Homo sapiens: one gene and its partner. The protein of the gene in region 1 interacts with the protein of each later gene in a pairwise test. Each region holds a gene or a part of one and is shown in the gene's direction. Other genes may lie near its edges.

Region 1 (7,799 bases):
AATTCATATTTCATTTAATTTCGCTATTAAATAGTTAACAGGTAAAATAACAACTATCCTTTGTGATCCATGTAGATCCTGTCATCATTTCTCATTCAATCAATATGCTTTAAATCCCTACTGGACACCAGATCCCAGGCACTGTGTTGACTCAGAGGGGAACAGACATGTTTCAGGCTGGTTCCCAGTCCTCAAATTTCTCACAAGCTTGCAGACAGATCATTACAGAGGTTCTTAATTAGAGCTATGACAGAATTAAAGTCAAGAAAGCCTGGAAAAACGGGGGGGGGTACTTTAATCCCAATGTAAAGGAAGGGCCAGCACATGGTCAGGAAAGCTTTCTTGGGAGAGGTGAAGTTCTGAGTAGGTAATTATCCCTCTTTACACCTGAGAAATACTAAGGTCAAAGATATTAACTCGCCTAAGGCTGCATAGCTACTGAGAGAGCAGGATTTAAATTTTAGTTCATTTGCATTTTAAAACACCGTATTTTTTTCTCATGGACTACTATCAAAATCACTTCCCCTGACTCTGCTTCCGTTAAGTATTCTGAAAGTTTCTCAGGTATGTTGCAGTCCCTCTTCTGATAGCTAGGTCCAGCTGTGAGTACAGTCAGGCTCTGAGAAGGTCTTTAACATTCCCAATCTCAGGTAACAGCTGTTTTTCAGAGCTCCTCTCTTAGGACTGTACTTCACTTAAAACTCAGTTACAAATGTCACTTTCCATTGCTTTCTCACTAAGTAAAGTAGCCAACTTCCCCGAGGATGCTTCTACTATTCCTGTCAATTGCCCATCTGCCTGCCCCTTCCTAATTCTGAAAAAAAGGCAGAGATGTGCATCCTAGACTTGTTGGTTTCAGGGTAGATCCTCTCCGCTTTCATCCTAGGGATTCTGCAAATTTACATGGAAGCTCCATTCTCTTGGGTGCCTGGATCTTCCAGGCAGAAAAAAGCTAGAAAGGAGGAAGACCATACCAAAAGGAATGACATGCACTGTCTATGTCAGCAACCCTTAACATAAGGGAAACATGCCATAGTGAATGCAAGATGATTACATCTGGACTCAGACAGACCAGGGTGTGGATCCCAGCTCCACCACTTCCCGGCTTGCTCACTTTAACCCATCTCAGCCTGTTAATCTGTTAAAGGGGATTTTGACACTTTTCAGGTTTGCTTGTACAAAAATATTAAGTGCATATAAGAAAGCAGACCATCCATAAATCAACATCATGGTCTAGTGTGATGACAGCATAGAATTTCTTTTTTTCTGTATCACTTCATTGCATTTTGTCTTGCAGGGGAAATCAAAGCCTCGAATCGTGAAGAAACATGTGGAGGTGACACAACAATTATTTGCTGGGAGTGAGAGAGGTACTCACATGCTCTTTTCACTTATTGTCCAGAAGAAGAACATCACGATGGAAACATACCTTTCACTGGAGTCATTGAATCTTAACTACTGAATACCTTACCCAAGAAGTCAATGCTGAATGTCATCAACAAAGGCCGCAACAACCATAGCTGTGGATAAGAAGAATCCTTCTCTTAAGACATGTTGATTTTTTGAGTGTGCAGGGTATGGAGACATGAAGCCTTAAACTCGAATACAAAATCCACTCTAAGTCCTCATTTTCTCTTCTGTAAAATGGACTTATGAACTGCCTCCCTCCCTATGAGTTAATGAGATAACAGTTAAATAGAATGCAGGGCGTAACACAGGACCTCTCACAGGGACTGTACTCAACACGTTAGATGTCTTAACTTCATCCCTTTCTGACTCCAGGGAAAGTGAAATGCCAGCATTTTTAAGTAGATGTTACATTTCTACAGCGAACAATCTTGTCTTTCTCTGATTGTTTTTGGTTGATTTTTATGTATCATGTCAATGGTTGGAGCAGCTAGTTTTTAATGCATAACAAAGCGCTGCCAAATTTTATGCTTTAAACAGTAAACTATTTTACTCACAATTCTGCAGGTCAATAATTTCAGCTGGTCCCATCTGAGTGGGTTTTCTTGTTTGTTTGTTTGCTTTTTTTTTTTTTTTTTTGCTGTTCATGGCTAGGCTTAGTTATGCATCTTCAGCTAGTGCTCTCTTATGACCTAAGTAGTTCTGCTTGTGGGCGAATGGTCTAGGATGGCCTCACCCATATGTTGGGCAACGGTTTCACTGTCAGCTGGGGTGAAAGGGAAGAATCTGCCACAGGTATCTCATCATCCAGCTAGCCTGGCCAGCCTTCCTCACATTGCTGTCACAATGTTTCAAGAGCGAAAAGAGAGAGGATACCCCAGTGTGCAAGCACCTTTCAGTTCTCTGCTGACTTCTGTTCACATTTGTTATTGTCCCACTGGACACAACAAATTACATGGCCAAGACCAGAAACAATGACAGTGTGGAAGGAGATACAGGCTTCCACGAACAAATTGCAGTTTCACTGTAACAATCTACTACTACAGTGATTCCTGAATTACACTGCTCATCATTGGAGAAATACTTAAATATGCAAAACCAGACAGAGGAATGCTGTTCTCTTAAAAAGGATTTTTACTATCGTTACAAAAGTCTTAGCTTTTCTTGCCTTGTTACTATATTATAGATGAATAATAAAGTTATTAGGCCATTCTCACATTGCTATAAAGAAATACCTGAGACTGGGTAATTTACAAAGAAAAGAGGTTTAATTGGCTCATGGTTCTGCAGGTTTTACAGGAAGCATGGTGCCAACAGTTGCTCAGCTTCTGGGGTCGCCTCAGGAAGCTTACAATGGTGGCAGAAGGCAGAGGGGGAGTAGATGCATCACATAGCGAAAGCATGAGCAAGACAGGGGAAGGTGCCACTTGCTTTTAAGTCACCAGATCTTGTGAGCACTCACTATCACACAGACAGCACCAAGCCATGAGGGATCCGCCCTCATGATCCAAACATCTCCCACCAGGCCCCACTTCCACCATTGGGGATTACAATTTAACATGAGATTTGGGCAAGGACAAGTATCCAAACTATGTCAGCTGTGAAAGTTTGGGGAAAAGGTAATTAAAAAATTCCCTTGCTATTGTATTAAGCCTGTTTTAAGTTGTGGGTCTCCATATCCAGACTTTTCCAGTAGGGTTTCAGTCTGTGCCTCTTTCCATGTTATAATGTCCTATTCCTCTTCCCTGCCACAAGTATGCCCCCGGAAGGGACCTATTGCAGAGGCACGGTGTGATGTAGAACTGATACTGATGGAATAGACTAGAAAATGGCACCTCTTTCTTGTGAGACAAAGGAGACAGTACCTGGCAATTGTGAAGCAGCCCTGCCCTGTGGCCGGAGCCTGGATTGGCCCCTCTCGAACCCAGACACCCCACTAGTCTGCTAGTTTTGCTAGAGTGTCTCGTGATTCATTCAAATCATGTTTCAAAGCTCTGAGTAGAAGTTCAACCATTTTGTACTACTAAGTCCTAACCACATTTTTAGGACCCCTTAGTATTTTATTTGTTTTGTGGTGGTTAATAGTACACTTTGGGAGGCCGAGGTGGGCGGATCGCGAGGTTAGGAGTTCAAGAGCAGCCTGACCAACATGGTGAAACCCGTCTCTTCTAAAGCTACAAAAATTAGCCAGGCGTGATGGCACCCGCCTGTAATCCCAGCTACTCAGGAGGCTGAGGCAGGAGGATCGCTTGAACCCAGGAGGCGAAGGTTGCAGTGAGCTAAGATCGTGCCACGGCACTCCAGCCTGGGCGACAGAGCGACAGAGTGAGACTCCATCTCAAAAAATAAAATAAAATAAAATTGTGAAATAGGACGGGATCTCCATGTGCATGGTTTCCCAAACACCAAGTGGTGCTTATCAAAGAGAAAGATAGAGAAGGGTGGAGTGTGTGGAGAATAGGAGAACGTCTCTGGGCTTTAACGCAGGACTACTAGATGGGTGGTGCTCTGGTCTTTAAGGTGTACTGCATCGAAGTGCAAATGGCTGCAACACGGAGGCGAGGAGTGTACCCATGAGGAAACTGAGGTGCAGGGAGGTCAGGCAGGTTGTGAACAGGGGTTTAAGAAAAGCGTTAAATTACTGGCTGCGCCAAGATGCTCTGCAAGGTGGGAACCTGTTGAAGAAATAAAACTGCATCATGTGACTCAGCAAAGATGCCCGGCTACTGTGCCAAGAATCCCGTGGGTTGTGCAGACAACACTAGGGCCCAGGTCCCATGAGTAAGCCAGAATGGTTGATAGTGGGGGAGGATGATGACGACGCTGCCTTTGCCCCTGTCTTGTGTGAAACAACTGCCTGTGGGTTTCCTGCAGCGCAGTGGGGAGTGAGAGGAGAAACGTCCTGCCGTGCCACAGTGAGTTTGGGTCAAAGGCACACATGGAGGCAGTCTTGGCCAAAGTCACAATGCGGTGAATTTCGCTGTGCGCCAAGGAGGTTCCTGGCCCCAGGAGTGCGAAGCGCCTGCGCAGTGGGCCCCAGGCGTTGCGCGCTGCGGGAGCCAGGAGACCCCCGCCCCTGGCCCCTCGCCCCGGTTCCTCGCCCCTCAGCCCACGCCCTCCCCTGCGAACGCGCACGTGAACGGGAGCGCGGACGCGCCCGAGAATGCGCTTCACCTCGCAGAAGCGGGTGGGCTCTGTGGAGAGTCGCGGGCTCGCGGGCAGCAGCGCCTCCTCCACTCCGGCGGGCCCGGGTTCGGCCGGCCGCCCATCGGACTGGCGGACTGGCTGACTGACACGCCTCGCTTGCCCCCGCCTCCGCCCGTGCCCCGCCCAGCTTCATCTCTCCCTCCGCTCCCCGGGCTCGGGGGCAGACGGCAGACGGAGGCGCCTCTCTCTCCCCGCCCCTCTCCTCGGCCCTTTCTCTTCCCAGCACCTCGGCTGCTGCCCGGCAGCGGCAGCAGCTGCGTCGGCGGCCCACACAGCAGCGAGAGGCGAGAGGAGGCTGCCTCGAGGATGAAGTGCAAACCCAACCAGACACGGACCTACGACCCCGAGGGGTTCAAGAAGCGGGCGGCGTGCCTGTGCTTCCGGAGCGAGCGCGAGGACGAGGTCCTGTTAGTGAGTAGCAGCCGGTACCCGGACCGCTGGATCGTGCCGGGCGGGGGCATGGAGCCCGAGGAGGAGCCGGGCGGTGCGGCGGTCCGAGAGGTGTACGAAGAGGCGGGAGTCAAGGGGAAGTTAGGCCGGCTCCTGGGCGTCTTCGAACAGAACCAGGACCCCAAGCACAGAACGTACGTGTATGTACTGACTGTCACGGAGCTGCTGGAGGATTGGGAAGATTCGGTTAGCATTGGGAGGAAGCGAGAGTGGTTCAAAGTCGAAGATGCCATCAAGGTTCTCCAGTGCCACAAGCCCGTGCACGCCGAATATCTGGAGAAACTAAAGCTGGGCGGTTCCCCAACCAATGGAAACTCCATGGCCCCATCCTCGCCAGATAGCGATCCCTAGTATGTACCGCTTGCGCCCGCACAGACTTCTGTTTGTCTGCCTTGCTTAAAATGCATCCCGCCTGGAGCACCTCTCGTACCATGTGCGGTCTCATGGGCAGGAGGGAGGCTTTTGTTTCCTTGGCAGACCCTCTGAATCACGCTTGCAAACTGTTGCCAGGCCCTGTTTTCAGTTGGCACGTTTTTCAGTTGCTTTCAAAATCGCTTCTTGGTTACCCTGTAAAATGTTTCGGAGAAGCCTATGCCGCTTGGGGTTTTAGGTGCTGTAACTGTTCACCCTGCTTTTGGGCGGGGGGGGGGGGGGTGGGGGGCGAGGGGTGGGCGGGGAGTGTGTGTGTCTGCCTGTGCGCCCTGTGATGTTTTTGGTTCTTTTATATTTCACACATATTCGTGGGTGCGTGCACATTTTTGATACCAGCCTTGTGGTTTGTTTGGTAGTGGAGGCCTTTAAAGTCTGACCAGCTTGGTTGTGTGGCATCTTTTAGTATTTTTTTCCCTTGAGTTGTTTTCTCCTTCACAGCGTTCGCCCTTGTTGTCAGGGAGGCCTTCTGTGGTGGGAGTTGGTTTAAAAAATCAGTTTTGAATTCGTAAAAACATTAGGAAATCCTACATCTTGTGCTCTTTCTGCACTCGACAGTCGCTCTAGCCTCTGAAGTGGTATCTCATTTGCCCCTTTCAGAAATTTCTTTTTCTATTTCTATGTAGGTCATTTGGTTTTCAAAAAATTTTCACAAGTAATTTTTCACTGCTGACTTTAAATCGCTATTTCCCATGTAGATTAACCTTACTGAATAGATGCTGCTGGGGATCTGCTAGCCAAACGCATCTGATCAGAAAAACTGTATTCACAGAATTTGATTTCCCATACTCAACTTCCAACTCCCATTGCCCCTTACTGGATACCATAGAAGAACCATGGTTCTCTGGATTTAAGTTTGTTTTTGAAAGAAAGTGGTTTCCATTCCATATTTGAATGTAGTGACATTCCGCTTAACCTCCCTGACTCCCAGTAACCACAGGAATGGAATCTTTTGTGGTGATTACATCCCAACAGAGTTAGCTCTAGCGATGTTCAGCTGGTACAGAATTGTCAAACTATTAGGATTCCTGAACAATCTCTCAATGATAGAGAGTAATTGTTTTGTCTCACAGTACCACCTTTTCTGGGTGCCAAATTAAAAGCTCTCACGTTTGCCTCAGTACTTGCTTGAAGTCAGGAATCCCATCTAGAATAGCTAAATCTCTCTTCTGGACCTTCCGCTGTTCCCCCAGCCATGTCTGACATTAGGTAGAAGGAAAACCTATTTTGTGAAGAGGGTATTCGAATGAAAAGATCATTCCTAATTTCTAGAGCAACCTAGACTATGTCATATCTCTTAAACATTATTGACAGGTATTGGGGTCCCTTAACTTTTTTTTTTGAGATGGAGTCTTGTTCTATGGGTCACTGTTACGCACTTTCTATTAAGAAATTTTGGGTTTCGCTATGTAAATTCTAGGTTCCTCTTCTGGATTTCATCTCCCATGACAGTTGAGGAAATGTCTAGTTTTTGAAGAGAGTATGGGTGGGGGCTGGGGGACCGGGCGCGGTGGCTCACGCCTGTAATCCCAGCACTTTGGAAGGCCGAGGCGGGCAGATAACGAGGTTAGGAGATCAAGATCAGCCTGGCCAGCATGGTGAAACCCCGTCTCTACTAAAAATACAAAAACTAGCTGGGCATCGTGGTGTGCGCCTGTAATCCCAGCTACTCGGGAGGCTGAGGTAGGAGAATCGCTTGATCCCGGGAGGCGGAGGTTGCAGCGAGCCGAGATCGTGCCACTGCACTCCAGCCTGGGCGACCGTCTCAAAAAAAAAAAAAAAAAAAAAAGACTGATTTTCCCCCTCGTCCCTGTCCCCCAATGGACAAGTGCCTACTTTTTCTTATTCTAAAAAAAATTTGAAGACGACATGTTGGAGTAAAGGTAAGTTTGGTTGCTTGATACAGAATTTGCTCTGGATGGTTAACATATTTTCTAAGAAACCTATGTTCTGTTGATCAGGTCACCTTTGAAAGAAGTAACCCTGAAAGGGGTGAAAGGTGGCCATAAATATTTTTAAGTCCTGTAGAAAATTGATAAAAATTGAAGTGTGTATGTGTAAGAGCTTGTAAAGAAACAGCAACATTAGAGGGCCCTTGTGGGATAGATGGTTTAAAGGGCTCTGATGCTGGAGCTGCTCCTTGTCTCACTTGCCTTTAAGTGGAGTTCAATTGTAAGAAAAAGCATGTCCTCCCTCCATAGTTGTTGACTGGGAAAAGGGAGATTAGAGCTTACAGCACTAACAGCTGGCCAGAGTTTTATTTTTCAGAGTTCCTTTTGTGGAAGCATCAGTCAAAACAAATATTC
Region 2 (4,831 bases), on another chromosome or scaffold:
CAGAGAGCTCTGTGTGGTGATGTTCATATTAGTGAGGTTTACCTTGACCACGAGCAGTGGGAAACTCAAAATAATGGTGGCTTATTTCTCATCTAAAAACATCCCGGGGTGGGTGGTCTGGGACTGATCTGGTGGACCCAGGCTCCGCCTTGTTGCTTGACTGTTGGCAGCACCTGCTTACTTACCACTCATGGTGCAAGATGACACTTCAGCCTCCGCCAAAATGCTCACCTTCCAGCCAGCAGGAAGTCGGAAGGAGAAGAAAGGGGACAGAGCCCCATGGCGTCCATCCTTAGAGGATGCTGCCACCTGAACCTCTGCTTTCATCCTGTTGGTCAGAACCCAGTCACATGACCACACCCAGTGGCAACGGAGGCTGGGAAATATAGTCTTTATTTTGGGCACCCATGTGTCCAGCAAAACTGGGGGTTCCATCAGTCGGCAAGAATGGGAGAGTGGCCGATGCAGTGGCTGATGCTTGTATCCCAGCACTTTGGGAGGTCGAGGTGGGCAGATCACCTGAGGTCAGGAGTTCAAGACCAGCCTGGCCAATATGGTGAAACCCTGTCTCTACTAAAAATAAAAAAATTAGCTGGGTGTGCTGGCGCACCTGTAGTCCCAGCTACTTGGGAGGCTGAGGCAGGAGAATCGCTTGATCTTGAGAGGTGGAGGTTGCAGTGAGCCAAGATTGTGCCACTGCCTTCCAGCCTGGGAGACAGCAAAAAAAAAAAAAAAAAAAAAAAAAAAAAAAAAAAAGGGCCAGGCACGGTGGCTCACACCTGTAATCCCAGCACTTTGGGAGGCCGAGATGGGCGGATCACGAGGTCAGGAGATTGAGACCATCCTGGCTAACACGGTGAAACCCCATCTCTACTAAAAATACAAAAAAATTGGCCGGGCATGGTGGAGTAGTCCCAGCTACTCGGGAGGCTGAGGCAGGAGAATGGCGTGAACCTGGGAGGCAGAGCTTGCAGTGAGCCGAGATCGCGCCACTGCACTCCAGCCTGGGCGACAGAGCGAGACTCTTGTCTCAAAAAGAAAAAAAGAAAGAGAAATCTGCCTCCCAGCCTTGGGCTCCTGCCCTACCAGCCCACACCCCTGGTAGAGCCCCCTCTCCCACCAGCTCAAAGCCCAAGTTCCTTCACTGTGACCTTGTCTGCTCCTCTAAAACAGGCAACACCAGACAGTGAGAAGAGCCAGCCAGACATGGGCAGAAAACCTATTTCTGTGATCTACTGGCTGTGTGAGCAGGGGCTAGTTGCTCTCTCTGGGCCTCACTGAAGAGAAGGGTGGCACTATGCTAGGGCCGGCACGGTTGCAAGGTAGATGTAAGATGGGGTACAGGTGTTGTGGAGGGCAGAAATGCACCATCCGAAGGCTACATGTCCCCCACACTTATGTCTTGCTTGGCCCACACTGTTTCATTTTAAAATCAGTAGCAAACAATTTAAAAAATCAGAAGATTTGCCTGCATGATGCAGTGGCTCATGCCTGTAATCCCAGCACTTTGGGAGGCCAAGGTGGGAGGATTGCTTGAGCCCAGGAGTTCAAGACCAGCATGGGCACCATAGCAAGACCCCTGTTTCTACAAAAAAAAAAAAATTAGAAAATTAGCCAAGTGTGGTGGCATGCACCTGTGGTCCCAGCTACTTGGGAGGCAGAGGGAAAGTGAGATCTCCTGCTTTTTATTTCTTTATGTATAATGATAGGGTCTTGCTCTGTTGCCCAGGCTGGAGTGCAGTGGCATGATCACTGCTCACTGCAGCCTTGATCTCCTGGGCTCAGAGGATCCTCCCACCTCAGCCTCCCAAATAGCTAGGACTAGAGGTGCCCACCAGCATGCTCAGCAGATTTTTAAATCTTTTTGTAGAGATGAGGTTTTGCTATGTTGCCCAGGCTGGTCTCGAACTCCTGGCCTCGAGCGATCCTCCCACCTTGGCCTCCCAAAGCACTGGGATTACAGACGTGAGCCACTGCGCCCAGCAGATTTCTCTTTAACACCTAGATTTCAGCCTGAGCCAGGCAGGCATTCCTGAATGAACCAGTAGTACTGCTCCCAGAAGAAGAGGTCCTCCTCCGTGTGACACAGTCCCCACTTGGCCCTTGCAGGGATTGGATCTGGGATCCCTGGATTTAAACTCAGGGCCATCCTCATAACAGCCTCACAAGGCTGGGATTAGCTTCCCAGTTCACAAGGGAAGAAACCAAGACTTGAGAAGGTCAAGGTCTGGCCAGACCCACACATCTTGGACCCTCATACCGCCTCGAGGCCCCATGCTGCCCTCTGCCTGCTCCAGATGTGAATACTGCTGGCCCTGGCTGGCCCCGGCTGGCCCCGAGGGTCCTAGGGATGAACAGCCCAGCCCAGGGAGAGCTCAGCCCCTTGTGCCTCTGCCCCTTCCCACCTCCTGCGGAGGCCAGTCGACTCACCCACAAAGGGCCAGGCACTGTGGGGATAGATCAGCTAACAAAACAGTTGATGCTTCCTGCCCTTCTGGGCCTTACATTTTGGCTGGAAGAAGAGGGGAGAGGCAGACTGTAAGCAATAAGCGCAATAAGTAGGTTGCCTGGAAGTAATGTTAGATCACGTTACGGAAAACAGGAAAGAGCAGAGCGACAAGTGCTGGGGTGCGTGGTGCAGGGAAGGCAGCTGGCTGCTGCTGGTGTGGTCAGAGTGGGCCCTCATGGAGAAGACTGCATTCGAGCAGAAACTTGAAGGGGGTGAGGGGTGAGCCTAGAGATATCTGGGGCAGAGCAGTCCAGGCAGAGGGGACAGCCGGTGTCAAGCCCAGGACAGGAGTGTGCCTGGTGTGCCAGTTTCAGGCAAGAGGCCAGTGTGCAGAGGCAAGGTGAGAACGCAAGGGAGAGCAGTGGCGGAGACGGTTGGGAACGAGGTCAGACCTGCTGGCCTCCAGCCTCTGCATGGGGCTTGGCTCTTGCTGGGAGCAATGGGAAGCAGTACACAGTTTCATGCAGGGGGAGAAGGCCTGTCTTGGGTTGCAGGGGCACGCTGTGGCAGCTGGGATCAGAGAGAGGAGCTTGTAGGCCAGTTGTTATGTGGTCCCACGGGCCAGATGGCCATGGCTTACCTCACTTCAGGGAGGCTGTGAGAAGCACTCAGAATCTGGATGTGCCTTGGGGGTGGGCCCCACTGGATTTCCTGGTGGACCTGGTGTGGGGTGTGAGAGGAGGGTGTGTTTGGCTGCAGCAGACAGGAGAATGGAGTTGCCATCCGCGTGATGGGGATGGCTGTGGGAGGAGAGGTTTGGGGTGAGGGAATCAGGAACTGAGTGCTGGACATGGCAAGTCTGAAGGCGCAGTGGTCGTCCACTCAGAGACCTTGGAGTTGGAGATGGAGGTGTGGGAGTCCTGAACAGTTAGATGTAGTGTTTACCGCGAGAAGGAACAGGGCTTGCGGCCAGCCCTCCTGTGTTCCCGTGACCCAGGGCAGGGCAGGAGGGGCCTGAGCCTGCCGAGTGACTGGGACCTCCTTCCAGGAGATCATGCACGCCCTGAAGATGACCTGGCACGTGCACTGCTTTACCTGTGCTGCCTGCAAGACGCCCATCCGGAACAGGGCCTTCTACATGGAGGAGGGCGTGCCCTATTGCGAGCGAGGTACCCACTGGCCAGTGAGGGTGAGGAGGGATGGTGCATGGGGCAGGCATGAATCCAGGTCCTCTTTCTCTCTGCCCCCATTCTCAGACTATGAGAAGATGTTTGGCACGAAATGCCATGGCTGTGACTTCAAGATCGACGCTGGGGACCGCTTCCTGGAGGCCCTGGGCTTCAGCTGGCATGACACCTGCTTCGTCTGTGCGGTGAGAGCCCCGCCCCTCGAACTGAGCCCCAAGCCCACCGGCCCTCTGTTCATTCCCCAGGAGATGCAGGAGAAGTTGGGAAGGGGCCTCTCCTGCTGCCCCCAACCCCATGTGACTGGGCCTTTGCTGTCCTTAGATATGTCAGATCAACCTGGAAGGAAAGACCTTCTACTCCAAGAAGGACAGGCCTCTCTGCAAGAGCCATGCCTTCTCTCATGTGTGAGCCCCTTCTGCCCACAGCTGCCGCGGTGGCCCCTAGCCTGAGGGGCCTGGAGTCGTGGCCCTGCATTTCTGGGTAGGGCTGGCAATGGTTGCCTTAACCCTGGCTCCTGGCCCGAGCCTGGGGCTCCCTGGGCCCTGCCCCACCCACCTTATCCTCCCACCCCACTCCCTCCACCACCACAGCACACCGGTGCTGGCCACACCAGCCCCCTTTCACCTCCAGTGCCACAATAAACCTGTACCCAGCTGTGTCTTGTGTGCCCTTCCCCTGTGCATCCGGAGGGGCAGAATTTGAGGCACGTGGCAGGGTGGAGAGTAAGATGGTTTTCTTGGGCTGGCCATCTGGGTGGTCCTCGTGATGCAGACATGGCGGGCTCATGGTTAGTGGAGGAGGTACAGGCGAGACCCCATGTGCCAGGCCCGGTGCCCACAGACATGAGGGGAGCCACTGGTCTGGCCTGGCTTGGAGGTTAGAGAAGGGTAGTTAGGAAGGGTAGTTAGCATGGTGGCTCATGCCTGTGATCCCAGCACTTTGGAAGGCCAAGGTGGGCAGATCGCTTGAGGTCAGGAGTTCGAGACCTCATGGCCAACACGGTGAAACAGCGTCTCTAGTAAAAATACAAAAATTAGCCGAGTGTGGTGGGGCATGCCTGTAATCCCAGCCACTCAGGAGGCTGAGGCGGGAAAATCACTTGAACCTGGGAAGTGGAGGTTGCAGTGAGCTGAGATCACACCACTGCGCGCGAGCCTGGGTGGCAGATGGCAGAGCGAGACCCTGCTTCAAAAAA

What was found.
Region 2: the proteins of NUDT10 (region 1) and PDLIM7 interact in binary tests that used the Homo sapiens proteins (3 or more experiments, as listed by UniProt).

What each region holds. Positions count from the first base shown.
Region 1 is NC_000023.11:51,328,046-51,335,844, forward strand, and holds the start of NUDT10 (diphosphoinositol polyphosphate phosphohydrolase 3-alpha), read left to right. Parts: upstream 1-4,776; 5' UTR 4,777-4,920; coding exon 4,921-5,414; intron 5,415-7,799. UniProt on the Homo sapiens protein: Cleaves a beta-phosphate from the diphosphate groups in PP-InsP5 (diphosphoinositol pentakisphosphate), suggesting that it may play a role in signal transduction.
Region 2 is NC_000005.10:177,482,857-177,487,687, reverse strand, and holds the end of PDLIM7 (PDZ and LIM domain protein 7), read left to right. Parts: intron 1-3,497; coding exon 3,498-3,618; intron 3,619-3,705; coding exon 3,706-3,821; intron 3,822-3,957; coding exon 3,958-4,044; 3' UTR 4,045-4,294; downstream 4,295-4,831. UniProt on the Homo sapiens protein: May function as a scaffold on which the coordinated assembly of proteins can occur. May play a role as an adapter that, via its PDZ domain, localizes LIM-binding proteins to actin filaments of both skeletal muscle and nonmuscle tissues.